Homo sapiens: one gene and its partners. The protein of the gene in region 1 interacts with the protein of each later gene in a pairwise test. Each region holds a gene or a part of one and is shown in the gene's direction. Other genes may lie near its edges. The genes, in order: ICAM5, FAM135B, CNST, CRLF3, MT2A, RAB3IP and FAM117B.

The links.
Region 2: the proteins of ICAM5 (region 1) and FAM135B interact in binary tests that used the Homo sapiens proteins (3 or more experiments, as listed by UniProt).
Region 3: the proteins of ICAM5 (region 1) and CNST interact in binary tests that used the Homo sapiens proteins (3 or more experiments, as listed by UniProt).
Region 4: the proteins of ICAM5 (region 1) and CRLF3 interact in binary tests that used the Homo sapiens proteins (3 or more experiments, as listed by UniProt).
Region 5: the proteins of ICAM5 (region 1) and MT2A interact in binary tests that used the Homo sapiens proteins (3 or more experiments, as listed by UniProt).
Region 6: the proteins of ICAM5 (region 1) and RAB3IP interact in binary tests that used the Homo sapiens proteins (3 or more experiments, as listed by UniProt).
Region 7: the proteins of ICAM5 (region 1) and FAM117B interact in binary tests that used the Homo sapiens proteins (3 or more experiments, as listed by UniProt).

What each region holds. Positions count from the first base shown.
Region 1 is NC_000019.10:10,292,314-10,295,835, forward strand, and holds part of ICAM5 (intercellular adhesion molecule 5 precursor), read left to right. Parts: coding exon 1-9; intron 10-298; coding exon 299-553; intron 554-684; coding exon 685-933; intron 934-1,384; coding exon 1,385-1,630; intron 1,631-1,726; coding exon 1,727-2,005; intron 2,006-2,087; coding exon 2,088-2,327; intron 2,328-3,032; coding exon 3,033-3,299; intron 3,300-3,522. UniProt on the Homo sapiens protein: ICAM proteins are ligands for the leukocyte adhesion protein LFA-1 (integrin alpha-L/beta-2).
Region 2 is NC_000008.11:138,136,449-138,141,307, reverse strand, and holds part of FAM135B (protein FAM135B), read left to right. Parts: coding exon 1-110; intron 111-2,211; coding exon 2,212-2,322; intron 2,323-3,958; coding exon of another isoform or gene 3,959-3,999; exon of another isoform or gene 4,000-4,041; intron 4,042-4,047; coding exon 4,048-4,161; intron 4,162-4,859.
Region 3 is NC_000001.11:246,572,470-246,577,328, forward strand, and holds part of CNST (consortin), read left to right. Parts: intron 1-4,859. UniProt on the Homo sapiens protein: Required for targeting of connexins to the plasma membrane.
Region 4 is NC_000017.11:30,780,825-30,784,438, reverse strand, and holds the end of CRLF3 (cytokine receptor-like factor 3), read left to right. Parts: coding exon 1-252; 3' UTR 253-1,755; downstream 1,756-3,614. UniProt on the Homo sapiens protein: May play a role in the negative regulation of cell cycle progression.
Region 5 is NC_000016.10:56,607,114-56,609,997, forward strand, and holds MT2A (metallothionein-2), read left to right. Parts: upstream 1-1,470; 5' UTR 1,471-1,542; coding exon 1,543-1,570; intron 1,571-1,878; coding exon 1,879-1,944; intron 1,945-2,149; coding exon 2,150-2,241; 3' UTR 2,242-2,384; downstream 2,385-2,884. UniProt on the Homo sapiens protein: Metallothioneins have a high content of cysteine residues that bind various heavy metals; these proteins are transcriptionally regulated by both heavy metals and glucocorticoids.
Region 6 is NC_000012.12:69,741,221-69,746,079, forward strand, and holds part of RAB3IP (rab-3A-interacting protein isoform alpha 1), read left to right. Parts: intron 1-4,859. UniProt on the Homo sapiens protein: Guanine nucleotide exchange factor (GEF) which may activate RAB8A and RAB8B. Promotes the exchange of GDP to GTP, converting inactive GDP-bound Rab proteins into their active GTP-bound form.
Region 7 is NC_000002.12:202,724,989-202,729,847, forward strand, and holds part of FAM117B (protein FAM117B), read left to right. Parts: coding exon 1-21; intron 22-1,261; coding exon 1,262-1,375; intron 1,376-4,859.

The sequences.
Region 1 (3,522 bases):
CCATCTACAGTAAGGAAGGAGGCGGGGTCTCCGCGGCTCCGAGGTGGGACCAGAGGAATGCGAAGGCGGGGCGAAGAGTGGGCGGGACCTCAGTACCGGAACAGGCGTGGCCCGAGGGGCGGGGCAGGTGGGGGCGGAGACGTAATCGCTGGGGAGGAGGAGCCTGTACAGCCTGAGAGGCGGGGCGCCGTACCCTAGTTCGTTCTCAGCACCCCGAGGATTCGGGCAGATAAGGGGCGGGCCTTGACCGGAGGGAGGGGTATGGTCAGTATACTACGACCAAATGCTCCGCCCCCAGGCTTCCCGGCACCACTCCTGACCCTGAGCGAACCCAGCGTCTCCGAGGGGCAGATGGTGACAGTAACCTGCGCAGCTGGGGCCCAAGCTCTGGTCACACTGGAGGGAGTTCCAGCCGCGGTCCCGGGGCAGCCCGCCCAGCTTCAGCTAAATGCCACCGAGAACGACGACAGACGCAGCTTCTTCTGCGACGCCACCCTCGATGTGGACGGGGAGACCCTGATCAAGAACAGGAGCGCAGAGCTTCGTGTCCTATGTGAGTTGGTGATAACCCCTCGCCCCCCACCTTCTGGTGACTTCCAAGGACCCGCCTGCTCCCTCACCGTGTCGTGGAGGCGGAGCCATTTCTTACGTCTAAGCCTCTGTAACCCCACGCCCTGCCCGCAGACGCTCCCCGGCTAGACGATTCGGACTGCCCCAGGAGTTGGACGTGGCCCGAGGGCCCAGAGCAGACGCTGCGCTGCGAGGCCCGCGGGAACCCAGAACCCTCAGTGCACTGTGCGCGCTCCGACGGCGGGGCCGTGCTGGCTCTGGGCCTGCTGGGTCCAGTCACTCGGGCGCTCTCAGGCACTTACCGCTGCAAGGCGGCCAATGATCAAGGCGAGGCGGTCAAGGACGTAACGCTAACGGTGGAGTGTGAGTGGGGGTGCGCAGGGTGCATTTCTATCTGGTTCAAGGTCTGGAGGGTGGCCAGCCTCCAGGGAAGAGTAGGAGTAGGGTATGAGGTGTCCCTTTGGGTGAGGTTTTGGGAAAGGGAAGAGGCTGGTTAGTGGGGTTGGAGAAAGATCTTGGAGGATGGAAGGGACCGGGTGGGCGTGCCCCTAGCCTAGGGCGTGGTATTTGGGCGGAGTCGTGGAAAGGCGGGCAGTCCAGAGTGTTTAAGTTTTTAGACGAAAAAGGCGCCACTGGTGGCTCAGGAAGCTCCCAGACAGAGTGCATGCCTCGACTAGCGTGACACCTCCTTGGATCGGCGTCCAAGGGTTATGCAGGGACAACACTTCGTGGAAGCCTTGCCGCGCCAAGGAGGGTCTAGGGACGTCAGATTTGCCCCCAAACCCCAAAGCCAACAATACACTCCCTCCTCCAGACGCACCAGCGCTGGACAGCGTGGGCTGCCCAGAACGCATTACTTGGCTGGAGGGAACAGAAGCCTCGCTGAGCTGTGTGGCGCACGGGGTACCGCCGCCTGATGTGATCTGCGTGCGCTCTGGAGAACTCGGGGCCGTCATCGAGGGGCTGTTGCGTGTGGCCCGGGAGCATGCGGGCACTTACCGCTGCGAAGCCACCAACCCTCGGGGCTCTGCGGCCAAAAATGTGGCCGTCACGGTGGAATGTGAGTAGGGGCACCGCGGAGTTAGGCAGGATCTGTGGGACAACCCCGGCTGGACTTCCTGGCCCCCGTGTGAGCCCCTGCAATCCTGTTTCCCAGATGGCCCCAGGTTTGAGGAGCCGAGCTGCCCCAGCAATTGGACATGGGTGGAAGGATCTGGGCGCCTGTTTTCCTGTGAGGTCGATGGGAAGCCACAGCCAAGCGTGAAGTGCGTGGGCTCCGGGGGCGCCACTGAGGGGGTGCTGCTGCCGCTGGCACCCCCAGACCCTAGTCCCAGAGCTCCCAGAATCCCTAGAGTCCTGGCACCCGGTATCTACGTCTGCAACGCCACCAACCGCCACGGCTCCGTGGCCAAAACAGTCGTCGTGAGCGCGGAGTGTGAGCGAGGCCCAGGCGGGTAGGGAGCAGGGGTGCCCCACGGTCCAGGCACTCCCTGACATCCCCCATGGCTGCTTTGCAGCGCCACCGGAGATGGATGAATCTACCTGCCCAAGTCACCAGACGTGGCTGGAAGGGGCTGAGGCTTCCGCGCTGGCCTGCGCCGCCCGGGGTCGCCCTTCCCCAGGAGTGCGCTGCTCTCGGGAAGGCATCCCATGGCCTGAGCAGCAGCGCGTGTCCCGAGAGGACGCGGGCACTTACCACTGTGTGGCCACCAATGCGCATGGCACGGACTCCCGGACCGTCACTGTGGGCGTGGAATGTGAGTGGGGGCAGCACCGGATGGAGGGGACACGGTCCTCGGAAGAATGACTCGCAGCGGTGGGAGCATTCAAGGGCACCTCTCCCAATCCCATTCTCGGGGACAGGGAATTCCAGCCTAAACCAGGGGGTAATGAAAATTCTAGCCAGGCGCAGTGGCTCAGGTCTGTAATCCCAACACTTTGGAAGGTTGAGGCGGATGAATCACTTGAGGCCAGGAGTTCGAGACCAGCCCGGCCAACATGGCGAAAACCCGTCTCTACAAAAATTAGCCGGTCGTGGTGGTGGGCGCCTGTGGTCCCAGCTACTTGGGAGGCTGAGGCAGGAGAATCGCTTGAGCCTGGGAGGCAGAGGTTGCAGGGAGCCGAGATCCCGCCACTGCACTCCAGCCTGGGCAACAGAGTGAGACTCTTTCTTAGAAAAACAGAAAAAGAAAATTATAGGGAATAGGAGCACGGCCCTCCTCAAATCCTGGATTAGAACACTGACCTGGGCTTCACCTCCTTCCATTCGGTGAAGAAGGGCGAGGAATTTTAGCCGCAACAGCAGCCTGATTGTCGGGGAAGGAGGCTCTGATAGGAGGCAGGATCCTCTTCTGCCCATCAGAGGCGCGGTGGTCTCCCATCGATCGTTGTGGGCCGGAGCAGGGCATTTGATCAGTGGCTGGGCCGGCGCTAAGCCCCACTTCACCTTCTGTGCCCTTCAGACCGGCCAGTGGTGGCCGAACTTGCTGCCTCGCCCCCTGGAGGCGTGCGCCCAGGAGGAAACTTCACGTTGACCTGCCGCGCGGAGGCCTGGCCTCCAGCCCAGATCAGCTGGCGCGCGCCCCCGGGGGCCCTCAACATCGGCCTGTCGAGCAACAACAGCACACTGAGCGTGGCAGGCGCCATGGGAAGCCACGGCGGCGAGTACGAGTGCGCAGCCACCAACGCGCACGGGCGCCACGCGCGGCGCATCACGGTGCGCGTGGCCGGTAAGTGGCAGCTGGGGAGAGGCGGGGCGAGGTATCTGAGAGGGGGCGTGACCTGGGTCTTGGGGCGGCCGGCCCCGCCTGCCTCCCTCTCGGTCCCGGTAGACTAGACGGAAGTGGGACAGAGTAGAAGTCAAAGGTGCCTTAGCGGGTGGGGCTGTTGATCGCACTTTGAGGGGTGGGAGATGGAGGTGGCAGGGGGACTGAATTCAAGGGGAGGGACCCT
Region 2 (4,859 bases), on another chromosome or scaffold:
CCTCACACGGCCCCGGTTCCGGTATTACCTCAACAAACTCCACACGTTCCTGTCACTCTCTGGGCCTCACCTGGGAACCCTGTACAACAACAGCACCCTGGTTAGTACAGGTAAGATTCTTCTAGGACTCGTCATTCCTCAGAATTAATCTGGGGCCTCTGGGGCGTGAAACCGGGCACAGGTACTTCCACTTGGAACCCTGTGACTGTGCAGTCTTTTCCAAGCATGGCATGGAGGGAGGAGTCCTGGCCTTAGAGGTGTGGCCCTTGTGTCTGGGGGCTGAGTGAGGTGACACTAGATGTTTTCCAGGATCATTTCTGCCTTCAAATTTCTGTGAAAAAAAGGCAATGTCTCTGGGGTCCTGGTTGGAAAAGACTGACAAGACACGGTGTTGTGATGAAGAGAACAGGGACTCTGAATCAGGCCACCTGCATGACAAACCTGTGGTTAAGTCCTGACCAGGACACTTGAGGGAGACTGTGGCCTAGACATTTAATCTCTGTGCTCCTCAGTCTTCCTGTTTGTAAAATGGAGGTTATGTGTGTGTGTATCTGTGTTTGTGTATATGTATGTATACATATATGTATGTGTACAAGCATGTACACAATGTAAGTATGTATACATATATATGGTGTGTAGGTGCATATGTGCATATGTGTATCATAGAATTGTTGAAGATTACACAGGGGAAGGAAATAAGGTTGACTAACATCTATGGGAGGTTAAATATATCAGCAAGAGTCAGACAAAGAAGGACCTCGACTGACTCCAGAATATGTTAGACTTACCCTGTAGACCTTGTAGATACTACTCATGAGATTTTACTGAGGAGGTGACATGGTTTGGTGTATGGAAGCCCAAGGAGGGCATTGAGTTTTATATGTAATAACAAATCGTTTATTAAATCATGTTCTTAACAACTACCTCAGTAGTCCCTGATTGTTCAAACCCATTATGTGGCATTAGGGTCACCCCTGATAAGCTTCCTTGTCCCTGCAATCTTCCAGGCCTCTGCCACTGTCCCCTGTCCTCTCCCACACTAACGTTGTTTCCTCATGGCCTGGTCAGTTTAGTTAGTTTGCTTTTAAGTTATTTTATGGCATACTTGTGAACATGAGTTATCCGACACAATGGCACATAACAAATGGAAGTCCTTTCCTCTGCACTCTGTCTTTCCTCCCAAACCAAGGAAGCCATTCTTTGGACAGAAACAAATTTGTTAAACTACATTTTTCCCCCACAGTTATAAAGGAATCTTGCAGCATCATAAAATATTTTTTAAAAAGACAGACTTTACCAATAATATCTCCAATCTAGCATATCCAGAGTAATTTTATATATTTCATTCTACTTATCTTTGTGCACACACATTGACGTAGCAGTCAGTGTAATATATGTACATACCATAGCTTGCTTATTTCCTTGTGTTTCTATCAGATTAATTTGCTTGTTGTGGTTATGTAATCCTTACACTCATCAATGTTAGTGTTTGCCTAAGCTTAGCTAAACGCATGAGATTTTTGTTGTTGTTGTTGTTTTTTGAGAGAGAGTCTTGCTTTTGTCGCCCAGGCTGGAATGCAATGGTGCAATCTCGACTCACTGCAAGCTCTGCCTCCCAGGTTCAAGCAATTCTTCTGCCTCAGCCTCCCAAGTAGCTGGGATTACAGGTGCCTGCCACCATGCCTGGCTAATTTTTTAATAGAGTCGGGATTTCACCATTTTATCCAGGCTGGTCTCGAACTCCTGACCTCAGGTGATCCACCCGCCTCGGTCTGCCAAAGTGCTGGGATTACAGGCATGAGCCACCATGCCCAGCCAACAGATGAGTTGTGAAGTGAGACATTTATTTTAGCTTTACTGTATCCTAAATGTATCTGTAAGGATCATTTTATATTCTTTTCGCATTGAAAATTATTACCCTAGGCTTCTTTTTCGGAAGGAGATTGACTGGATTGAAGAGTGTGGGTAGTTTCTTACTCCGAAGGCTGTTGTCCTGTCATCATTTTTGCAGGATGATTTAAGTCCTTTCCACCAGTACGTGAGAGGACAAATTTACCTCTAACTTCCCAACTATTTGCTAGTATGCCTACTTCTCTCTTATTTTCAAGTTAACTAAAATTCAGTTTAACGTTCATCTCACCAAAATTCCATCCCAGTTAGTTTTTGTTTTGTTTTGTGTTTTTGATTTTTATTTTGTTTTTGTCTTCCTAGGCTTATGGCTCATGCAGAAACTGAAGAAATCCGGGTCTCTACTGCAGCTGACCTTCAGGGATAATGCTGATTTGCGCAAATGTTTCCTCTACCAACTAAGCCAAAAAACAGGTCAGTGGTTTCCCCCACAGCTGCAGTTATGAGTTTGAGCTTGGGATTCAACTCCTGAGACACAAATGAGATATAATGCTACATTGATTCACTCACAGAAGGGCCTAGTCAGGAGGCCCAGCACTCAAAGCCTCTTTGGCTCATTGGGAGGCCAACAGCTACCAGGAACTCAGCTCCTCTTGCCCATTGCCCATATGGCACGTGAGAGATTGAGCCAAGGTGTGTGTAAGATCATTTCAATAGCCAGAAGCTGTAGCTTCCACTTTGTGCCAGTTTTTCAATGTTCTCATTGCATAGGCCTAAGATCTGTGTGCCAGCTTCACCCAGGTACAGGCCCATCTACAAAAAAGGCAGATGCAACATTTTCCACTGATGTTGACTGTGCAGTGGGAGACGGGGGTCATTGTCAGGCAGGCCTGCTATGATACCTGCACCCTCTCTCTGTCATGTGGAAGTGCATAGAGGTGTTGAAGACCCTACCTGCTACATGGGAATGTCCACAGAGGACAGCAGTAATGGTGATCATTGCCGAGTGGTCCCCATGTCCAGTCGGCGAGTGGAGCAGCTGACTGATTGCCCTGCTCAGTCCCACCACACAAGCTGGCCTGGCCCAGGGTCTGTTCTTGGTCACAATCTTCCACCGTCCTGTAAACACTGACTCTGCTGATCCCTCTGTGCCTGTGAATCTGGTGTAGCCACGGGCTCATCTGTGAGCCTGGCTGAGTTCCTTTCCTACTTTCTGCCTCTGTGTGTTGAGTTGAGCTCTTAGAGCTATCTCCTGTGGAGGAGGAGGAGGGAGGCAGGGCTTGGCAGAAGAAGGTGGGACTGCAGTGTGATCACTGTAGAGTCCATCAGGGGTGCAGGAGCTGGGGTGGCCCTGGAGAGCTGTCCTGAAGGAAGGGGAGGGGCTGACCATTACACCTTTGTCTTCCTCGCCCATGTATTGGCCAGCTGTTGAAGTAGGCTGCCCCCAATGTGTGATGTCTGATGAGGGGACCCACACTTCAGTAGGGCACACATAGCTAAGAGCTGACAGCCGCCCACCCAGCAGGATCTGGGGAATGAGAAGGACAGTCTCAGTACAGATGGAGTGTCCGGGTAGTCTGCAGTGCTCAGGAAGTTCACGATGGGCTCTGAGGCCTGCAGGGATACACTGTGATGTTTAATTTGAAGGGTCCCTCTGTCTGCATTGTGGGGACAGATTGCAGGAAGGCAAGACTGGCTGCAGAGAGGTGAGTTCTGAGGCTGTTTTCCTAAAGCATGGGACGTGGTGAAGGCTGGAATTAGGAGAGGTGCTGGAGTTGAGGAGGAAGAACAAGATAGTCAGACTGACTTTTCCTTATGAACCCCTTAATATTTCTATCCCCAAAAGGCTTTTTTGGTCCCATTCTAGTTGCTTATTTCTCTGTGTCCAGAGTAGCTTTCTGTGTGTCTCCTTAGCTTTCATGGCTGATGAGAGCAGGCTTCATCTCCCCTCACAAACGCAAAGCCCCTGCTTAGTGACTTCTTTTCTCAACCTCCCATAGGCCCCCGCGATACCTCTATGCCATCTGCTGTGCATTGTTAAACCTCAGGACAGAATGTCCTTGTGTGATGACACTAGTGTGTGGTGTGTCAACATTTTTTCTCTCTATAGGACAAGTCTGGAAATTTGTGCAAATTTCCAGAGGGTGTTGAAGTTGAAACTACCTGGGTAAAAAGCACTCATCTGGCTAATTTTTACAGGGCTGCAGTATTTTAAAAACGTCGTGCTGGTTGCTTCTCCCCAAGACCGTTATGTGCCATTTCATTCAGCCAGGATTGAAATGTGTAAAACTGCCCTCAAAGACAGACACACAGGTAAGCTACATTTAATTTTTGCTCAGGGACTTTCTAATTTGAAAAGCAAAAGTAAATTCATGGAATTGACTGCCTATTGGGAACACCTGGGCTATAGGTTTAGTGCTGCATTTATCTTAGCTTAGTGATAGGACAAACATAGCTCATCTCGATGTTACTGTGCCAGATCCTTCCTTTGTGTAATAAACAGTCACATGTTTATTAGATTATGAAACTTCTGTTCAGTCCTATTGTGTGCCAGCCACTGAAATTGATGACTGGGATGTATAATTCAATGAGACAGGCCCTGCCCTCAAGGGGCACATTGTCTAGTTGGAGCCTCGACAAGTAATAGCAATGAGAGTAAAATGTGATAAGTCAAAAAATAAAATAATGCCTAAGGCATTAAGGCAGCCCAGAAGTGGAACAGGACATAGGACAGAGTCAGACGAGGATCCCTGGAGATGACAATGAGTTAGGTTTTAAAGGATAGGTAGGAATTTTCCAGACAATCAAGATGGATGTGGGCTGGCATTTGTGGTTTCCTTTGGTTAATTTGTTTAATTGTTTTTTTTTAAAAACATGTTTTTAGCTTTTAATTTTGAAACAATTTTATACTCAAAAAATGTTGCAACAACAGTACAAAAAATTCCTGCATACGTTTCACTCTGATGCCCAATATTAGCATCTTACATAACCATTGTACCATTATCAAAATC
Region 3 (4,859 bases), on another chromosome or scaffold:
TGAAAAACATTGCCTAAGATTTTTCAATAAGGATTTTTGTGAAAATGTGTGTGGTTTGTTATTTAGAGATGAGATCTCACTGTTTTGCCCAGGCTAGTCCTGAACTCCTGGGCTCAAGTGATCCTCCTGCCTTGACTTCCCAAAATACTGGGATTATAGACGTGAGCCACCACTCCCAGCCAAATGTATGTTTTATTTATTGAATAATAAATAGTGGAGTTATTTATTTATGTGTGTGATATGTGGTTTTTTTAATTATTAATTTTTTAGAAAAATAGAAGCAGGGTTTCGCCATGTTGCCTAGGGTGGTCTTGAACTCCTGAGCTCGAGCAGAGTGCCTACTTCAGCCTCTCAAAGTGCTGGGATTACAGGTGTGAGTCACTGCACCAGGCCTGAGTTATTTGTTTTTACCTCATGAAACAACAACTAACATTTTAGATTTTTTTTTCCACTTGTGAAGCATGAAAAAGTTTACTTAAATTGGATCTTACAAGGATTCATGTAACCAACAGGATTTCCTCCCTCAGCGTCAACTCACATGAAAAGAGGGGTGGACGTTTGTGCAAATTATACTGGTTATGATATTGTGAAATGTAGTTTCCTGGAAAAGTCATTATTGATACCCATTTTTGGCATCTTAATTCAAATTCAGCCATCAGGCTTTATTTTAAATGATTTACACAGCAATCTCTAGATTCTTCTTGCTACAAGTATTTTAAAAATTTTGTTGTGGAGTTCTTCGGCATGCCAGTTAGAGTTATACCTGTAGCATTGGATAAGCACTGTAAAGAGCCAAAATTAGAGGTAATACCCTTGCTCTTCCCTACTTTAATCATGTAATATAGGTCTTGTGACTTGGAAGAAGATTGTCTTATTACCATTACATTTGAACTTTTGTTTTAAAATTAATCTGTTAGATCATATATTCACCAAAGCTCATCTTTTCACTAGCCAGAGAAAGCTGTATTTCAAAATAACCTAAAGTAAAATAGTATTTAATTCAAGAAGTTAGTTTTTATTATATCAGGTGGCCTCTTGGTTGGTTATAGTTTCGTGCATTCTGATGCCTGCGGGCTTTTTATCCTTCCTGTCTCCACTGCATAGCTGGGGAAAACCTAGGGATTGCCCGGTGAATGCCAACAGAGCTTTAACCTGTGTGTCCATGGCTTGCCTTCCCTGAAGCCTCAAAGAGAACAGCTGCGAGTGCAAAAACCTTATGAGCAAAATTTCTGCTCCAGGAACACTTATCTGGGCTGAGGAAACATATTCTAAGAATATCTGTTTTGTAACTAAAGCTTCCATGTACTTGTGTAACGCTTTGTGTAAAACCACGTACTTTGTATAGCCTTTGCTGGAGAGTTTCCATTTTCCTCCAGCTCTTCAGTGTAAGTGAAAAAATGTGCCCAGAATGTCTCTATAGATTATTCTGCCTTCCCTCACCTTTTAGTTTTTTCCATGGAAAGCTGACAGGTCAGAATAGGCATATTTTATTAGAAACTCGAAGTGGTGGGGGGTAGAAGTACACATCTTTGCCTCTTTTTTCCTTCTTGATTACAGAAGTAATAATGCTCCAAAGATGTTTTTTAATAAAACTGAGTCTCGCTCTGTTGCCCAGGCTGGAGTGCAGTGGCGTGATCTCAGCTCACTGCAAGCTCCACTACTCCTGGGTTCACGCCATTCTCCCGCCTCAGCCTCCGGAGTGGCTGGGACTACAGGCACCCGCCACCGCGCCCGGCTAATTTTTTGTATTTTTATTAGAGACGGGATTTCACCGTGTTAGCCAGGATGGTCTCGATCTCCTTACCTTGTGATCCGCCCGCCTCGGCCTCCCAAAGTGTTGGGATTACAGGCGTGAGCCACCGCTCCCAGCCGCTCCAAAGATTTTTTAAAAAGATAAATAAATTTTAACTTGAGGAAAACATGGTTATTCAAAAATTCGTGTTTTTTCTTTTTCTTTAAAAAAAATTTTTTTTAGAGACAGCTTGTCGCACTATCACCCAGGTTGCCATGCAGTGGCAAGATTATAGCTCCGTGCAGCCTCAAACTCCTGGACTCAAGCAATCCTCCCACTTCAGCCTCCCTAGTAGCTGGGACTGCAGGTATGCAGTCTAATTTTTTTTTTTTAACTTTTTGCAGAGATAGGGCCTCCCTGTGTTGCCCCAGCTGGTCTAGAACTCCTGGCCTCCTCCAGGAGCGATCCTCCAGCCTTGGCCTCCCAAAGCACAATACGTGTATTTTTCAGAGGGAATTCTCAACTTTCATCAGATTTTTCAAGGAATATGTTACTCAAAAAAGGACAACAACCACAGCATCAGTTTGACTTGGTTGGTTATTGCATGTCCTTCCTAAATCTCTCTTATAAGCAGCTATGGCTTTATAAGGATTCCTATGTAAAAGCATCATTTTTAGTAGTATTTTATTTAAAACAAAAATAATTTAATAGATTATGAAGGAAAGTCATAGTGAGTCAAAGAACAAATCTGAACAAATCTTCCTCAAGTATTTTATTTATTTATTTATTTATTTATTTATTTATTTATTTTTGAGACAGAGTCTCACTCTGTTGCCCAGGCTGGAGTGCAGTGGCACGATCTTGGCTCACTGCAGCCTCCACCTCCCGGGTTCAAGTGATTCTCGCCTCAGCCTCCCGAGTAGCTGGGATTACAGGCACCCGCCGCCAAGCCTGGCTAATTTTTGTATTTTCAGTAGAGACGGGGTTTCATCATGTTGGCCAGGCTGGTCTTGAACTCCTGACCTCCTGACCTTTTGTCAAGTGTTCAGACAAAAACGTGCACAAATGTTTATAACAGCATTATTCACAGGAGTCAAAAAGTAGAAACAGCCCAAATGTCCATCAACTGATGAATAGATAAATAAAAGGTGGTATATCTGTACAGTGGAAGATTCTTTGGCAATAAAAAGAAATGAAGTATCAGTATATAGTACAACATGGATACCCCTTGAAAACATGCTGAGTGAAAGAAGCTAATTGCAATAGACCGCATATTGTATAATTCCATTTACGTGAAATGTCCAGAATATGTAAATCTATAGAGACAGAAAGTACATGAGTGGTTTGAGTGATTGCCTGGGGCTGTGGTGGGGGTGCAGGAGAATGGGAAATCACTGCTAGTGGGTATGTAGGGCAGGGGGGATCTTTTCGGGGTGATAAGATGTTCTAGAATTGATTGTGTACAATTTGTGAATACTAAAAGCTATTGAATTGTGCATTTTAAGTGGGTGAATTGTATGGTATATGAATTATATGTCGATAAAGGTGTCATGAAACTCAACTAGAAAAAATACAAGTTTATCATAGAAAATATGTAAAATACAGAGAAGTGGAAGAGGAAAAAAGTAATTAGCATTTTTAAAAATTCCCTATTTTTATTTCAATGATAAAAAATAATATAAGCTTATTCAAGAACAATACTGACACTTTAAAACAACATTCTCATATAAGATTTCAGTGCTCTCTGGGCGCGGTGGCTCGCGCCTGTAACGCCTGTAATCCCAGCACTTTGGGAGGCCGAGGCGAGCAGATCACTTGAGGTCAGGAATTCAAGACCAGCCTGGCCAACATGGTGAAACCGTGTCCCTACTAAAAATGCAAAAATTAGCCAGGCATGGTGGCGGGCGCCTGTAATCCCAGATACTCTGGAGGCTGAGGCAGGAGAATTGGTTGAACCCGGGAGGTGGAGCTTGCAGTGAGCCGAAATGGCGCCATTGCACTCCAGCCTGGGCGACAGAGCCAGACTCCGTCTCAAAAAAAAAAAAAAAAAAAGAAACAAAGATTTCTCAGTAATTGGTGGTGGGAGAGTTGGATCCTCACGTGCCTATGATAACCGTGCAGTCACAGTGTATACCGTATTCCACTAGTGAACAAAACTTTAATTTTTACAGAGCAGCATCGTGTTCAGTGACTATTATTTTAACTTTATTGATTTTTTTTGCATGTCATAATTCGTAAATTTGTTTTGGTTTAATTGTGTTAGAGTTAGAAGCACATAAAAATTATGTTTTTACATCCTTTTTTTTTTTTCTGAGATGGAGTCTCACTCTGTCACCCAGGCTGGAGTGCAGTGGTATGATCTCCACTCACTGGAACCTCTGCCTCCCAGGTTCAAGTGACTCTCCTGCCTCAGCCTCTTTAGTAGCTGGGACCGCAGGCATGTTACCACGCGCGGCACATTTTTGTATTTTTAATAGAGACGGGATTTTTCCATATTGGCCAGGTTGGTCTCTAACTCCTGACCTCAGGTGATCCACCCCCCTCAGCCTTCCAAAGTGCTGGGGTTACAGGCGTGAGCCACCGCACCCAGCCACAAATTATATTTCTTAATTCTTTTTATCCTATTACCCCTTCCCTTGGCTACCACCCCCTACCCTCCACCCACATCCACAGTGCTTTAAGATAAAGGAGATTAATTTCGCCTGTAGGAATCCATGGGAACTTGGCCTTCAGACTTCAGGCAAGCACCAGAGTGGAAACATTTGGAAGTCTCATTCTAACATGTTTTTACCTTAAAATTTTTTAAAAATTGGATTAGGTTTTTATGTTTTTAGAACCATCTTGCCCTCCCTTTTCTAGCTTTTGACGGGACATTGCCAAATTAATAGGCTGTTTTGAAGATTACTAAGATGGGCATCTTTCATTTCAGTAGGGAAAAGAACATGTGCTAAAGGAATTATTCAGGTGAAAATGCTTTTGTGATTAAAAATGTTCTTCAGAACTGATACTTCTCATGAAGTAAATTTCAACAGTACAAGCAAACCCTGTTTTCCTGTTGTTATGACTTTGTTGTTCTCACCTGTCCTCCATACCGCCCCACCACAGCGTCACTCCCTTTATAGCCTCT
Region 4 (3,614 bases), on another chromosome or scaffold:
GTTTTTGTCAATGGAAAAGAAATGACAAATCAGTTACCCGCAGTTACTTCTGGGTCCACTGTCACGTTTGACATTGAAGCCGTGACTCTAGGAACCACCAGTAATAATGAAGGTGGACACTTCAAGCTTCGAGTAACTATAAGTTCAAATAATAGAGAAGTGGTTTTTGACTGGTTACTTGATCAGTCTTGTGGTTCTCTTTACTTTGGATGCTCATTTTTCTATCCTGGATGGAAAGTGTTAGTGTTTTAGATGTTTGGGTGCTTGGCTTTGGTTTTCAGGGTCTAACGTAGCTGTCCTCAGCCCAGCGTAGTTGTAATTGCTTTAAAAAAAAAGTTGAATTCATCTCTAACTTAGGCCATTGGAAAGTGTTTACTGGATTCATTTTGTAATATTTTAGCAAAAAGAGACTTCAATGTTGTGGACAAAATCATACAATTCAGTCAATTTTATTTTTAGCATACTGTTAAATATCACATCACAATAAAAATCAAATTGGCATTAAAAGTATAGAAGATATAGGAAGTTCTATACCCTTCCACTGTACTTCTCAAAGTTGGTTATTAGACCAGGAAAACTTAATGTAATATTATTTTTAAAATCATCTTAAAGGATCCAAGTCCATGTAACTCTTTAGAACAAGAGGAATAGGTCAGATAGAAGAAGCTGTGTAATGTATTAATACATCCGTTCATGTGCTGTCCACATGAATGTGTTGACTGTGCTCTCCATGTTCAGGTATTTGTAAGCAGTGTTGACTTTTATCCCCTCTTCAGTAATCTTTAAGTCCCCAAAACATTATAACTTTTTCTTTTTTTGTTGAGACGGAGTCTCACTCTTGTCACTCAGGCTGGAGTGCAGTGGTGTGATCTCAGTTCACTGCAACCTCTGCCTCCCACGTTCAAGCGATCCTCCTGCCTCAGGCTCCTGAGTAGCTGGGATTACAGGCGTCGGCCACCACACCTGGCTAATTTTTGTATTTTTAGTAGAGACAGGGTTTCACCATGTTGGCCAGGCTGGTCTTGAACTCCTGACCTCAGGTGTTCCACCCACCTCAGCCTTCCAAAGTGCTAGGATTACAGGTGTGAGCCACTGCAGTGGACCAATTTTTGTATTTTTTTAAATGCTTGACCAAGTGTCTAAAATAGGCAAGTAGTACCTTTTGTTCTTTCATTGCAATTTGATACAGTATAGGCTACAGTATTTTTACAGGGTAAAACTAGTTATGGCAGTAGTATGCACAGCAGTGTTAGCCATTTCATATGTATGTAATATGCACGTGTGTATCCAATCTGCCTGTGACATGCATTTTACTCTTTGCAGAGAATGAGCTGCAGTCCAGTTTAATGTCAGTTTAATAAGTGGTCTCTTTTTAGCAGAGCAAAAAAATATAGCGTAAATACTTATTTTTTTTAAAAACTTACTTAAATTTGTGTGTAAAATATTTATTTGAAGGACTTTAATATGTAAAAATAATTGTCTTCTATGCCACCCTACAGATTTTATTTTAATGTGAATTATTTTTTTCATTTCATTTTTACCAGTATAGTAAAAAAGTAGAAAAGCAAGTATGATATTTTTGTAAGATAATTTATTTGGGGATTCATGTTCCCTGTTAGACAATCATGACCTTTTCTACTTGTCTTTTTATATATAAGTAGTAGATTTCCACTTGTTTAGGGATTAAGAAGATGTTCTAGAATGTAGATACCTTGTCCAGCCATAGGAATCAAAATAAAAAACTAAAAAAGTTCAGTGTGTGTACTTTTTTCTTCTGTGAGATTTGGTGAATCCAGTTTTAACCTACTTTTCATTTGAAGGGAAAACAGGCTTCTTGTGGCTCCAGGCATTTTAGTAAGATATCACTGTGACTTGTGAAAGGGTATGTGTACCTTCTTGTACTTTCTTTTAAAAACTTTTTTAAAAATATTTTTTGTAGAGAATGAGGGTCTTGCTGTGTTGTCCAGACTGGTCTCAAACTCCTGGCCTCAAGCAGTCCTCCCCAGCCTTGGCCTTCCAAAGTGCTGGGATTATAGGCATGAGTGACCACACCCAGCTGGTTACTTGTACTTTCCTATATTCTGTGTCTGATACTGAGCATCTTGCCTGACACAATGTGTGCAGAATGAATGGTGGATCGAATGAGTCGTTTTCTCCAGATATCTTCATCTCATTCCTTTAATTCATCAAATATTTGTTGAATGTATTTATTTCTTAGCCTCTCTAGGGAAATGACATCTTAATTTATACCTATAGAATCTGCCTGTTCACAGGAGTGCCTTAAACCTAATTTGAGACAGGAGTGGTAATATTTGGAACTCTGAAACTAATTTTTTTTGAGACAGAATCTCACTTTGTTACCCAGGCTGGAGTGCAGTGGTGCAATCTTGGCTCACTGCAACCTCTGTCTCCTGGGTTAAACGGATTTCCCTGCCTCAGTCTCCCAAGTAGCTGGGATTACAGGTGTGCACCACCACACCTGGCTAATTTTTATACTTTTAGTGGAGATGGGGTTTTGCCATGTTGGCCAGGCTGATCTTGAACTCCTGGCCTCAAGTGATCCTCCCACCTTGGCCTCCCAAAGTGCTGGGATTACAGCCGTGAGCCACTGTGTCTGTCCTTGAAACTAATTTAAATACTGACTTTTTTTCTTGAACTGTGAAGATTTTTTTTAAAAAAATGAACTCATTAGCTGGGCGTGATGGCTCACGCCTGTAATCCCAGCACTTTGGGAAGCCAAGGCAGGTGGATCACCTGAGATCAGGAGTTTTGAGACCAGCCTGGCCAACATGGTGAAACCCCGTCTCAACTAAAAATGCAAAAATTAGCTGGGCATGGTGGTAGATGCCTATAATCCCAGCTACACAGGAAGCTGAGGCAGGAGAATCACTTGAACCCTCCGGGAGGTAGAGGTTACAGTGAGCTGAGATCACATGATTACAGTCCAGCCTGGGCAACAAAAGCAAAACTTTGTCTCAAAAAAAAAAAAAAAAAAAAAAAAAAAAATCATTCTGTTCAAGTAAGTAAGGGAACCTAGTACTCCAAACCTATGTGCTAGGAGGGAAGAGTTTGTGTGATGATATGATCACAAGAATTGATTTTTTGGCTGGGCATGGTGGCTTATGCCTAGCCATTTTTTATTCACTTAAAAAAAAAATTTGGCTGGGTGTGGTGGCTCACACCTGTAATCCCAGCACTTTGGGAGGCCTAGGCTGGTGGATCACCTGAAGTCGGGAGTTCGAGACCAGGCTGACCAATATGGTGAAACCCTGTCTCTACTAAAATTACAAAAATTAGCTGGATGTGGTGGCGCACGCTGGTAGTCCCAGCCACATGGGAGGCTGAGGCAGGAGAATTGCTTGAACTCGGGGGGTGGAGGCTGCAGTCAGCCAAGATCTTGGCACTGCACTCCAGCCAGGACAACAGAGCAAGACTCTGTCTCAAAAAAAAAAAAAAAAAAAAAAAAAATTTAGCCAGGTGTTGTGGTGCCCACCAGTAGTTCCAAAGCTACTCAGGAGACTGAGGTGGGAGAATTGCTTGAGCCTGGGAATTCGAGGTTGCAGTGAGCCTAGGCAACATTGGTAGACCCCATCTCTTAATAAATAAACACAAAC
Region 5 (2,884 bases), on another chromosome or scaffold:
CAGTGGTCAGGGGTTGGTGAGGAGGGGCAGAGACACCAATCCAAGAGTCCCCGCAGTTTATACATACCACAGGCACGGAAAGCGCCAGGAGGGGAAAGAACAGGATGTTTACCAGCACCTTCCACAGGCAGCCACGGTCATGGGGGTCAGGACAGGGTCCCCAGAGGAAGTGACGATTCGGCTGAGCTAGAAAGACATTTCCACAGGAACTTACAGTAAGGGCTGCAAGGACAGCCTGTCCTCCCCCGCCCACCACCTCACTAAACTTTCACTGTGGCAATCGGCATTCCCTAAGCCTGCCAGGAAGCTTCCAGTAACCACTTCCTGACTCCTAGCATGACACACTTCGGGCCTTCCAAGGTTGACGATCTAAGGCCCTTACACAGCGCCAGACACGCGCAGGCAGGGAGGCAGGATGTGCCTCTCCAGACAGGAATGTGGACGCCACCTGGGCTCTTCCCCTCAGCCTCCACAGGGGAAGAATATTCTTGTGGGGTTTTTCCCTTCCAAATGTCTCAGGGCGATTCCAGTGTTCCCGCTAGTTCCTCCCTCCCAGGCTAGAACACAAATCCTTCCCACTCCCTGCCTGGCAAACACCTTCTGACCCTCAGGCCCAAGGCAATGGCCCACCTCCTCCCAGGCTGGATGGGGTCTCCTCCTCTCTGTTCCCCCAGCCCCTGAGCTTCCTGAGGACCAAGCTTGTGGCTTCTTCTCCTTACTCTTCCTCCTTGGTGTCTCTATGTTAGAGGGCCGTTAGCATCTGCTGGGGCCTGGTCGCATTCACCCTGCTCTGCCACTCACTGGCTGTGTGACTCTGGACAAATTAACTTCTCTGGACCTGCAGTTTCTCCTCTCTACAATGAGAATACTGGAGAGTCCTTATCTTATGGGTTGCTACAGAATTAAGTGACATCTCACACACAACACACTTCCTACAGTCCCTGTTACACGCTAAAAGTACTCAACATGCAACGGATACGTCATCAGTAACCACCCCACGGGTTTACTGTGATGCTGCACAATTATTAAGCCTTGGCTGCTACAGAGTTGTAACCTGTCTGCACTTCCAACCGGTTTGGGAATGCAAGCAGCATTCCCAAGTCCCGCTTTCACCCGCGCGCTAACGGCTCAGGTTCGAGTACAGGACAGGAGGGAGGGGAGCTGTGCACACGGCGGAGGCGCACGGCGTGGGCACCCAGCACCCGGTACACTGTGTCCTCCCGCTGCACCCAGCCCCTTCCGCGCCGAGGCGTCCCCGAGGCGCAAGTGGGCCGCCTTCAGGGAACTGACCGCCCGCGGCCCGTGTGCAGAGCCGGGTGCGCCCGGCCCAGTGCGCGCGGCCGGGTGTTTCGCCTGGAGCCGCAAGTGACTCAGCGCGGGGCGTGTGCAGGCAGCGCCCGGCCGGGGCGGGGCTTTTGCACTCGTCCCGGCTCTTTCTAGCTATAAACACTGCTTGCCGCGCTGCACTCCACCACGCCTCCTCCAAGTCCCAGCGAACCCGCGTGCAACCTGTCCCGACTCTAGCCGCCTCTTCAGCTCGCCATGGATCCCAACTGCTCCTGCGCCGCCGGTAAGAGGCTGGGGATGCCCAGTGTAGACTGTAGCGCTAGAGAAGCAATTTCTGACCCCTCTTTCTTTCTCTGGTCACTCAATTTCAGGACAGGAGTTGCTCCTTCCCAAAGAGTTTTGGGGTATCTTTCTCTCCATTCTAGGTTATTCGGAGCCCCCTTTTTACCGTTAAGGAGATCTGAGTTAATGGCTTGCTCAAGTTCCCAGGAATCGGTTGTGGACTGAGGAACTCGGCCCCGGGCTCTTAGTACGCCGTCCCTTGTTCAGGTATCCAGGGACGGTTCTCACCTCTGTCTTTTCTCCTTGCAGGTGACTCCTGCACCTGCGCCGGCTCCTGCAAATGCAAAGAGTGCAAATGCACCTCCTGCAAGAAAAGTAAGTGGGATCCTCTCTTTCCTCTACCCCTTCCCTGTCCTCCAGCCTGTCCCCTCTCCACCATCCTCAGGGGAATTAAAGCAGTCTGGGGATGCCCCATTGCGCGGAAATTGTTGCCTCCTCAGTGATCCTTATCAGGGAGAGCAGGAATCCTTATTCCCGGTGTCGCTAGTACTCATCTCTGCCGCCTCCTGTCTGCCCCCAGGCTGCTGCTCCTGCTGCCCTGTGGGCTGTGCCAAGTGTGCCCAGGGCTGCATCTGCAAAGGGGCGTCGGACAAGTGCAGCTGCTGCGCCTGATGCTGGGACAGCCCCGCTCCCAGATGTAAAGAACGCGACTTCCACAAACCTGGATTTTTTATGTACAACCCTGACCGTGACCGTTTGCTATATTCCTTTTTCTATGAAATAATGTGAATGATAATAAAACAGCTTTGACTTGATTCTGTCTCTGGTTTCCTTTATATGCCTTAAAAATAACGGACTGGGGTGAGGGATTGAACTGGGAGGGCAGAGACCTGGGCTGTGGATGGAAATGTGAGCCGTTAAGAAAGAGTGCATTCTGGCAAGCCAGGCTACTGCACTGAGCTTCAGCTTCTGTAAAACTGAATGGCGCTGTGCCAGATCATATGGGAGCAGGAGGGACACATACATGATCACTTTCAGTTTCACGTCAAATGTGGCACAGAAACTTCTCCATTCCTCACTTTTACTTTCAATTTCCCTGCCCAACTTCAGTTCTTCGTGGGATTTTAGACTTGAAAGTGACTACAGAGGGTGAAATCCAACTCCCCAGTGGCTGGAATCTGACATCCGGTTTCCCAAACTCCCTGTGGGGAATGACCAGTTTTGTTTTGTTTTGTTTTGTTCTCCATTAGTCACAGACCTAAACTCTGGTAAAATAAGGAGTTAATAAGAAAATGAAAGTTTAAAAGACACAAAA
Region 6 (4,859 bases), on another chromosome or scaffold:
GTCCTCTGGACATTCCCGGGATATAGGTGGTTTATCAAATTTTACAAGTCAGGAAATGGAGGCTTAGAAAGTTGCGATAATTTGTCTATGGTTACTTAGTTGTAGGTGGTCGTACAGCTGGCCAGTGACAGAGCCGGTATTAAAAACTGTATCCGACTGCCCAAAATGGAACGTAGTGCTTTTGTTTCTTACATTCCTGGTCTGCACCTTCTATTAAAGAGCTTTGTAACTATAAGGAGGCACACAGATGACAAGTGTTACCATTTGTATTTCTGGTTTAAAAATATCCAAGTTTTCTGAAGACGGTGATACCAGCATTGCTACTACAGTTACTTTTAAGTCTAGTGCTTATCAAGCGAAGTCCTGGTGTAAGCTTTATACTCATTTACTCTCAGAGTGAGCGAGGAGATAATACTTTATCCCTATTTTGTAGTTGAGAAAATTGAGACCCTGAGACCTTATGTAGTTTGCTCAACGTCACATAGTTAATTAAGTGACAGGTCTAGATTAGATGTCAGACAGTTTGTCTTCCATGTCTGTGCTCTTAACCACTACACTCTGTCATTTCTTCATGTATAAGTGGTAATGCTAAAGAATTGTTTGCTCATAATCACTACATTATCACTTCTTTATGTGTAGCTTATAATGCTGAAGAACTTTGTAATTTAGCTTTTATGAGATACGTAATGTTAATGTAATATGTAATTCTCATTGTGTCACCAGAGATTTTTTTAAATCAAATACTCATTGAGCATCTACTCTGCAAGTCACAGTAGGGGTTAAAGGAAACTGTTCTTAAGGAATATGGAAGGTAGGGCCTTATAATCATTCCCATATCTTTTATAAGTTCTTCAAAATGTAGAACGCACTTTACATATTTTAATGAATGTCAACTAAGACAAAGTGCTAGGATAGTTGAGTAGTGGAGAGGAAGGACAGATGGATAGTGGGTAGAGATATTTGTGCATTGAGGTAATGAGGGAAAGCTTTGAAGATATTCCAAGGGAGTACGCTTTTTCACACTAAACTTTTTTCCGATATAATTCTGATTAAGATGCAGTTCATCAAAGGATAGTAAATTGGTTACTACGCATTTGATATCCTAAAAACAAAATATCTGAGCTTTTGTAAACTGCTTTCTAGCTTGTTTCTCCTTTTTTATGCTACTATCCTTAGTTGTACCAGATGGTACTCTTTTTAAAAATTTTATGCTTTTATAATACTGAGTACCTCTTTTTTGGTATTTATGAACTTTGATATTTGTGTTGTATTTGTAATTGTTTCTAGGGCCCTAGAAACATGTTTATTGGCAAGGTGGTCTCTTCCTCTAGTCTACAAGTGCTTCGAGAGTAGGGCTTACCTCATTTTATAGCTTTAACATCGGGCCAGGTAAGTACTGTGCTGTGTTTGGTGATGGATGATCAGTTGAAGAATGTTAGGATGTTTTGAAGCTGCTCTAGCAGTAGAAATTGAAATGAACATTGAGAAATGAAGGGACAAAGGAAGGAAGAGGAAGATATTTATACAACTGGGAGCATTAACTTGCTATCTCTATTTTCCCTTCTGCTTTCCTTTTCAACTTACCACTAAATGAGGTAGTTTTATAAGCTTACATCGTACATAGTCATGGTTAGAGAAAAGTGGAAAAAGTAATCTGATTTATCTTAGAATATAGGGCAACACGAAATTAGATAACTATAGCCGTAAACTGATATTACTTAGAGGAAAAAGAATGAAAATTATTCAAATAGTTCAAGTTCATGAAAGATTTGATGCTTGTCGTTAACAGTAGGATTGTAAATATAATCATAATGGCAGTTGATGAAATTCCTCTGAGGGGTATGGATACATACACAAATAAGTATATGAATTGACAGCTTAGTATGAAGAAACTATTCAAGAATGTGAGAATGCCCTATGAGCATAAAGGAGCATATAGATGATAGCTTAGAACCACTTAAATAAGTGAATTGTAATTTGATATGCCCAGATAAAAGTAATAGTATTGAATATTTGTTTGGGAGCATCTGGTTGTCAGATAAGGATAAAGTATAAAAGAAAAACCAAAATAAGTTTGAAAAAACAATAAGCAAATTTGTATCAATTCCCTGTGGGGAAAAGAATCATATTTGAACTACATGCCTCATAAAGACTAGTTTTCCCTTTCTTTCCTTTTACCTAAGATAAATAAAGATACCTTCTGATTTGTAAGACAAACCCCTCAGTATGCTTTTGCTATTTCCCCCATTACATTTTTTTCTTTCTTAGATCTTTATAAAATCATACATTTATGTTGTGCTTTACAATGTATACATTTTTACATTGATATGCCATTTGATTTTCTCAAATGTAGGCAGGGGAGATAATATCACTACCATTATAGATGTCAAAACTGAACCTTAGAGAGATTAAATGACTTGCGTCAGTTCACACAGCTTGTCAGTGACAGAATCTGAACTAGAAGGAAGGTTTTCTGAAGTTAGTCTGTTAAAATGCTCAGGTTTTCTCAAACTTCAATTTCTCCAGTTTTGATACTCTCGCAAAGTATTTACTGTTTCATTTCTATCTTTTTCAGCAAAAATGTAGCCTGAATAACTGTCTCCACTCTTTACCGCTTTGCTATTCATTCCTTCTCTAAAGACTCTTGTTTATTTATTTAGTCAGTGCGTATTTCAGCACCTGTTGAATGTTTAGTTGGCATATATTCTTAAGAGAATATGTAAAATGAAGCTTCCATTATTGAGAAAAAGAAATTTGGAAAATGATTTTTTTAAAAAATTATACTTTTAAGTTCTGGGATACATGTGCAGAATGTGCAGGTTTGTTACATAGGTATACACGTGCCATGGTGGTTTGCTGCACCGGTCAACCCATCATCTACCTTAGGTATTTCTCCTAATGCTATCCCTCCCCTAGCCCGCCACTCCCCCACAGGCCCTGGTGTGTGATATTCCCCTCCCTGTGTCCGTGTGTTCTCATTGTTCATCTCCCACTTATGAGTGAGAACATGCGGTGTTCTGTTAATTTAAATAAATATTTAATTACAAATAAATATTTGTAATTAAATATTAGCTCATTGTATTATTACAAATAATTATTTGTAATTAAATATAATATTAGCTCATAAGTTCAGAACATTTTCTGAAAACTGTCAACATAACACACTGCAATAACTAACATCTCTACACATGTCAGGTTGTACATTGAAGTGTTGTGGAATTAGGCCGGGCATGGTGGCTCACACCTGTAGTCCCAGCACTTGGGAGGTTGAGGCAGACAGTTACTTGAGGTCAGGAGTTCGAGACAAGCCTGGTCAACATGGCAAAACCCCATCTCTACTAAAAATACAAAAAATTAGCTGGGTGTGGTGGCAGGCGCCTGTAATCCCAGCTATTCAGGAGACAGATGTTGCAGTGAGCCGAGATTGTGCCACTGCACTCCAGCCTGGGCGACAGAGCGAGACTGCATCTCAAAAAAAAAAAAAAAAAAGTATTGTGGAATTAGTGGGAATTCATTTGTGATCTATTATAATAAAAATGGGAAAATTGTGTAGCCTGATTGACCATTTGAGTAATTTTGCCCTTGGGCTATTAATTACATTTGCATTTATAAACATAGAATGCTTCTTAAAAGATAAATGTGATTTTTTTTGTCATAACTAAAATGCTAGTTTGGGAAGCCAACTTTAAAATTATTATGAAAGCTAATGAAAAAATGATTTTATATATATACTTGTTTTGTTTTTTCCTCCTTTATTATACAGTATTTGAATAAATTTTGAACTTTCCTTTTTATTTTGAGAGCACTATAAATTATGGAGAGTTTCAAATAAGGTAAGTAGACACAATAGTATAATGAACCTAAAAGTTTCCATCATGTAGCCCAGTAACTATCAACAGTGATCAGTCCTCATCCATCCACTTCTCCCACTTCTATATTATTTTGAAACAAATTGCAAGTCCTGTGTAATTTCACCTGTAGGTATTTCAGTATTTCCCAAAGATAAGAGCAGTTAACTGCAGTACTTTTACAAACTTTGTTCTTTATTTATTTTTTCATTTTAATCTACATTTCCTGCTTTTATTATTACAAATTTTCAAAAATTAACACTAATTCCTTGGTATAAAATATCTACACTTTTTAAAAAAATACACAGGAATATGGGTACTATAGTAAATTCAAGTTTCTGTTTATTTTGATTTATGTGCTGTTTTTTTTTTTCCAAGTCCTGTAAGGAGCTGAATAAGTATTAAATTCTGGCATAGTAACAAAACAGAGGAGGAAATGATAACAAAAATAATATAGGGGAAAATAATAGAACACAAAGCAATAGCAAATGCTCATTTCAATAGCAGTGCTTTAGAGAAACTTCAGTTTTGTCTTTGTGAAAGTAAGAGAAGGGTTCAGAGATTAAACATTATTATTCTGTTTGGATTGTTCACTTCTTTTTTTTTAAACTTTAAGTTCTGGGATACCATGTGCAGAACATGCAGGTTTGTTACATAGGTATACACGTGCCATGGTGGTTTACTGCACCCAGGATTGTTCACTTCTTAGAGATCCTTTGCTGTGCTTTAACCTTTATTCCCATCTCCCTACTCCCTATCCATTTCAGCTTCTAAGTGTATCTCAGATGTAGTGGAGTTAGGTGTTAGAGTCAGACACACCAGAGTTTGAATACTAGCTCTGTTACTTTTTGTGTATTTGACAAAATTAATCTCTCTCAGCCTCTTTTTTTTATATATCTGTAAAGTAGGGATAAGAACCATTTCAAATGAATGCTCTGAAGATTAACTGGAATAATTGTGTGTTTGTGAATAAATATAAATGAAGCTGTTCTGAATGTTTTCCATACGTAT
Region 7 (4,859 bases), on another chromosome or scaffold:
AGTACAGATCAACTTAAGGAGGTCAGAAAAATGGTTCTAAGATAGTGGGTGTGGAAATATGATCCTTTTGTTGGCTATTTCCTTGATATTATGGGCAGCAAGGATTTGTCGTTTTCCATTGATTTCTTTTTTCTTTTTGGCTTCTGAAATAACAAAAACAATTATTGTGTTGATTTAATAAAGATTTCAATAGGGATATTTATATATCACTTACCTGATTATGTATGTTTGTCTTTTTTTAGGAGAATTCATACCTGTCTATTAACATCAGATTTAAAAATTGTAACAATACAACAAATTCACATTTATTCTTTTTTTTTTTTTTTTGGGGTGTGCATGTGTGTGTGTGAGACGGAGTCTCGCTCTGTTGCCCAGGCTGGAGTGCAGTGGTGCGATCTTGGCTCACTGCAGGCTCTGCCTCCCAGGCTCAAGCAATTCTCGTGCCTCAGCCTCCCAAGTACCTGGGACTGCAGGTGTATGCCATCATGGCCAGCTAATTTTTGTATTTTCAGTAGAGATGGGGTTTCATCATGTTGTCCAGGCTGGTCTCTAACTCCTGACCTCAAGCAGTCTGCCTGCCTTGGCCTCCCAAAGTGCTGGGATTACAGGCATGAGCCACCGCACCTGGCCACATTTATTATTTTTCTATATATGGTGGTGTTTCTGAAATGCAGTACTCACTATAACCATGATGGTTATGGCTCCATGCTATGATTACCATTTTCTGTGCTGCTAATTAGTGACATTTTCATTTCACACATAATGTAGAAATGCAAAAACTCGGTCAAAGAATAAATAAGATATTCATTGGAATTGCATTCGTTATTTAAAGATGATATCTGTGAATATATTTCATGACTTGAGTTGATTTTTAAATACTGTGTAATTTTTGGAACTGTTGAAAGCTAGGTGTTCAATAAATCTAAATTGAAATAAAAATTAACTTATGGTAAAGGCAATGAGAATGATTGTTATTTTTTTAATTCTTCGTGAAAACTGTAATGTAATTTATTCTAAGTGCTGAAAACTATTTGTGTAGTACTTGGGAAGCTCGAAGGCTGAGAACAATGTTGGAACATATACACATACATGCATGTGTAGATGTGTATAAAATTATGAACAAAAAATGAGACTTTGTGATATGGTTCAAAAATTCAAAGGACTTATTAAGGGTAAGTTTTACTGGTTCTTATTAAGCAAGGATGTGTTTTTGTTTCATGTAGAAAACACTCTGGTGTACTTGCTATTTTTGCTTTCTCAGATTGCAAAATTACGCCAGCAGTTGCAGAGAAGTAAACACAGCAGTCGGCATCATCGAGATAAAGAAAGACAGTCTCCATTTCATGGCAACCATGCAGCTATTAACCAGTGTCAGGTAAGAGTACCAATACCACAAAATCCAGAAAAGGAATTTGTTGTTTTTCTGGTGATTTGTTATTTCATTGGTAATTGTTTAGGACAAAAATGCTCAAAAACATATTTGAAACAGTGATTTAAATACTGAATCACAGTCTTTATAAGAAAACAGAATATTAAGTTGACAAAATGATATTTTCCTTTAGTGACCTAAGATACGACTTCTAGGAGACATAGCTACTTATCTATTTTGGTTTACCATATTTTTGGCTTTATCAGTTCAATATTTTGGAGGCAGAATGACACAGAGAATTAAGCATTGGGTATGGAACAGGCCCTGGCTGAATAACTTATCTTTTCTAAGTCTCAGTTTCCTCATGTGAAGATGGGAATAATAATACCTGTCTCGGGCGGGGAACATCACACACCAGGGCCTGTTGTGGGCTGGGGCGATGGGAGAGGGATAGCATTAGAAGAAATACCTAATGTAAATGATGAGTTAATGGGTACAGCAAACCAAAACGGCACATGGGTATGTATGTAACAAACCTGCATGTTGTGCACATGTACCCTAGAATTTAAAGTATAATTTAAAAAAATGTAAAAAAAAAAATAGCTGTCTCATAGAAGTCTTTTGATAGAGACAAACCTTTATCTGCTTTGATTTTTTAGTAGAACCCATGAACTGCTCTTGATGGCTCATCCATCCAAAGAACACTTTTTTTTACTGAATTGAAATTGGATGAGATCTCTTGGCAAGGAGAAAGCAAGTTCATTTCAGGTCTTTTCAGGATCTTTCAAGTTCCAGAATTGAAGCTTTGGGAATGAGGAAGGCTGGATTGAATTTTCCATGTTAACAGTAAGGCAGCAGGGCCTGGAAGGTAGAGGGAAACTAGAAGACTTAGTTCTGTGACTCTCAGGTTGTTTTATAATACTGGAGTTGGCAAACTGTGGCCCGGGAGCCAAGAATGTCCCACCATGTGTTTCTGTAAATAAGGTTTTATTAGAAAACAGTCACTCTCATTTTTTATGTATTGTCTATTGCTCCTTTTTGTGCCACAAAAATATACATTTGACTCTCTATATCTTCAGGTTTTGCATTTATGGATTCAACCAACCATGGATCAAACATATTTTTGGAAAAATAGAATAGAATATGTATAAATATAAATATATTTTAAAATATAATTAAAAGTACAAATAAAAATACAGTATGACAACTATTTACATAGTATTTACATTGTATTAGGTATTATAAGTAATCTGGAGATTATTTAAAATATACAGGAGGATGTTCCTAAATCATAATGCACTTACCATGCCATTTTATATAAGGGACTTGAGTATCTGTGGATTTTGGTATTTGGAGGGGGGTCCTGTCCTGGAACCAGTCTTCTGAAATTGAGTAGTTGAAACAGAGACTGTCTGGTTCACGAAGCCTAAAATACTTACTGTTTGGCCCTTTACAGATAAGGCAGGCCAACCCCTTTTATAGTTTGGTAGTGTCTGATGTTTGTTAAATGTATAGATTGTTTGCAATGGAAAGTATGGGTAAAGGTATAGACTTTTTCAAACTGATTTTGCCCCAAAATATTAATACTCGGGTCAGATTTGATTTCACAGGTTTATAGAGATTGTTTTTTGTTTGTTTTGAGACAGGGTCTTGCTCTGTCACCCAGGCTGGAGTGCAGCAGGGTGATCACAGATTCACTATAGCCTCGACTTCCTGGGTTTATGTGATCCTCCCACCTCAGCCTGCTGAGTAGATGAGACTACATATGTGCACCACCATGCCTGGCTAATATTTTTTATTTTTTATTTTTATTTTTGTAGAGATGGGGTCTGTGTTGCCCAAGCTGGTCACTAACTCCTGGCTTTGAGTGATTCTCCCACCTTAGCCTCTCAAAGTGTTGGAATTACAGGCATGAGCCACTATGTCCAGCCAAATTTATAGTTCGATTATAATTTCCAGTAACTTTTTTCTATATTTGATATTTTAATTAAAAACATGGTTATACATTAGTATTCGTGTATATTCTGTACAAACTAGATTTATTTCTGGAGAAATAGAAATTTTAAATTGACAAAATAAGAAATGAAAAATTTGTAAAGACTAATAACTTTTGAATTTGGAATGTTAATTAAAAACCCAGTCTCACTCTCAAGAGGCTGAAGACCCAGATGATTTTACAGATGAATTTGCCAACCTTCCCCTTCCTCTCATTCATTCATAAATAAATGGTATGTGTTTCTAAAAAATAAGGCCACTTTTTACTCCCAGTCCATATTTTTACTCCAAGTAGAATAGGGATTAGGATGGAATTTTATTGAATTAAGTGGCTAGTTTTAGGACTTCAGAAGTTTCTGAAGTGATTATTTTTTAAACTTGTGTTAAAACCAACAATTTTAAAGTGGTTATTCAAATTTTCATTTTTTTCTTCTTGCAAGTTGAATTTACTTAATAAAGATTATTGGAATTTACTTGAAATTTATATTTAATTTAAAAACATTTCCTTGCAGAGAGGGTAAGGACAAGAAAATAGAGAAACTTGAAAAATAGTTCATCTAGTTTGAGTTTTGTACACTTGACACATCAAGCGTCTTAACTGTTTCTCCCATTTTATTTAGTGTTATCAGCCAACCGCAAGTCAGGCACATGTGCATCATGATAGTAATGACAGTAGTACTCATGTTTAATTGAAACTCACGCTGGCCGGGCACGGTGGCTCACGCCTGTAATCCCAGCATTTTGGAAGGCTAAGGTGGGTGGATCACCTGAGGTCAGGAGTTCGAGACTAGCCTGGCCAACATGGCGAAACCACATCTCTACTAAAAATACAAAAATTAGCGAGGCTGGCGGGTGCCTGTAACCCCAGCTACTTGAGAGGCTGAGGCAGGAGAATGGCTTGAGCCCAGGAGGCGGAGGTTGCAGTGAGCAGAGATCGTGCCACTGCACTCCAGCCTGGGTGACAGAGTGAGACTCCATCTCAAAAAAAAAAAAATTTAAAAAGAAACTCTTAGGCTGTAAACATGAAAATAATTTCTATTAAGTTATTGTTTTGGTGGGTTCTCTATCTAGTGGAGAAAAGTGCCACACGATACATGTGTACTTCTGAGGCCATTCATCAGCCCATACAATATTTATTAATCATTTTGGCCTGTGACCGTAGTACTCATTAGGGGATGTGGTGATAAAAGAAATATTGTCTGTCCTTACCAGTTCTCATATTAAAGAGATATGAGTAAACAGTTAATTATAACACTGTATAATGAATGTGTTGATAGGGAGAATTCAGAATGCAACAGAAGATGTGTTTATTTGGAAAAGGATGGAGTCATCTAGAAAGACGTCTCAGAGAAAATGGTGTCTAGCTGATCCTTGAAAGATAAGTATAAGGTGGAAAAAGTCATGTCCCCAGATAGGAGTAGTGGTAAGAGATTAGGCAGGATAGAGAGGTAAATAGCAGCCAAACCTGAAAGTCTCCATGTTCACTTATTAAGAC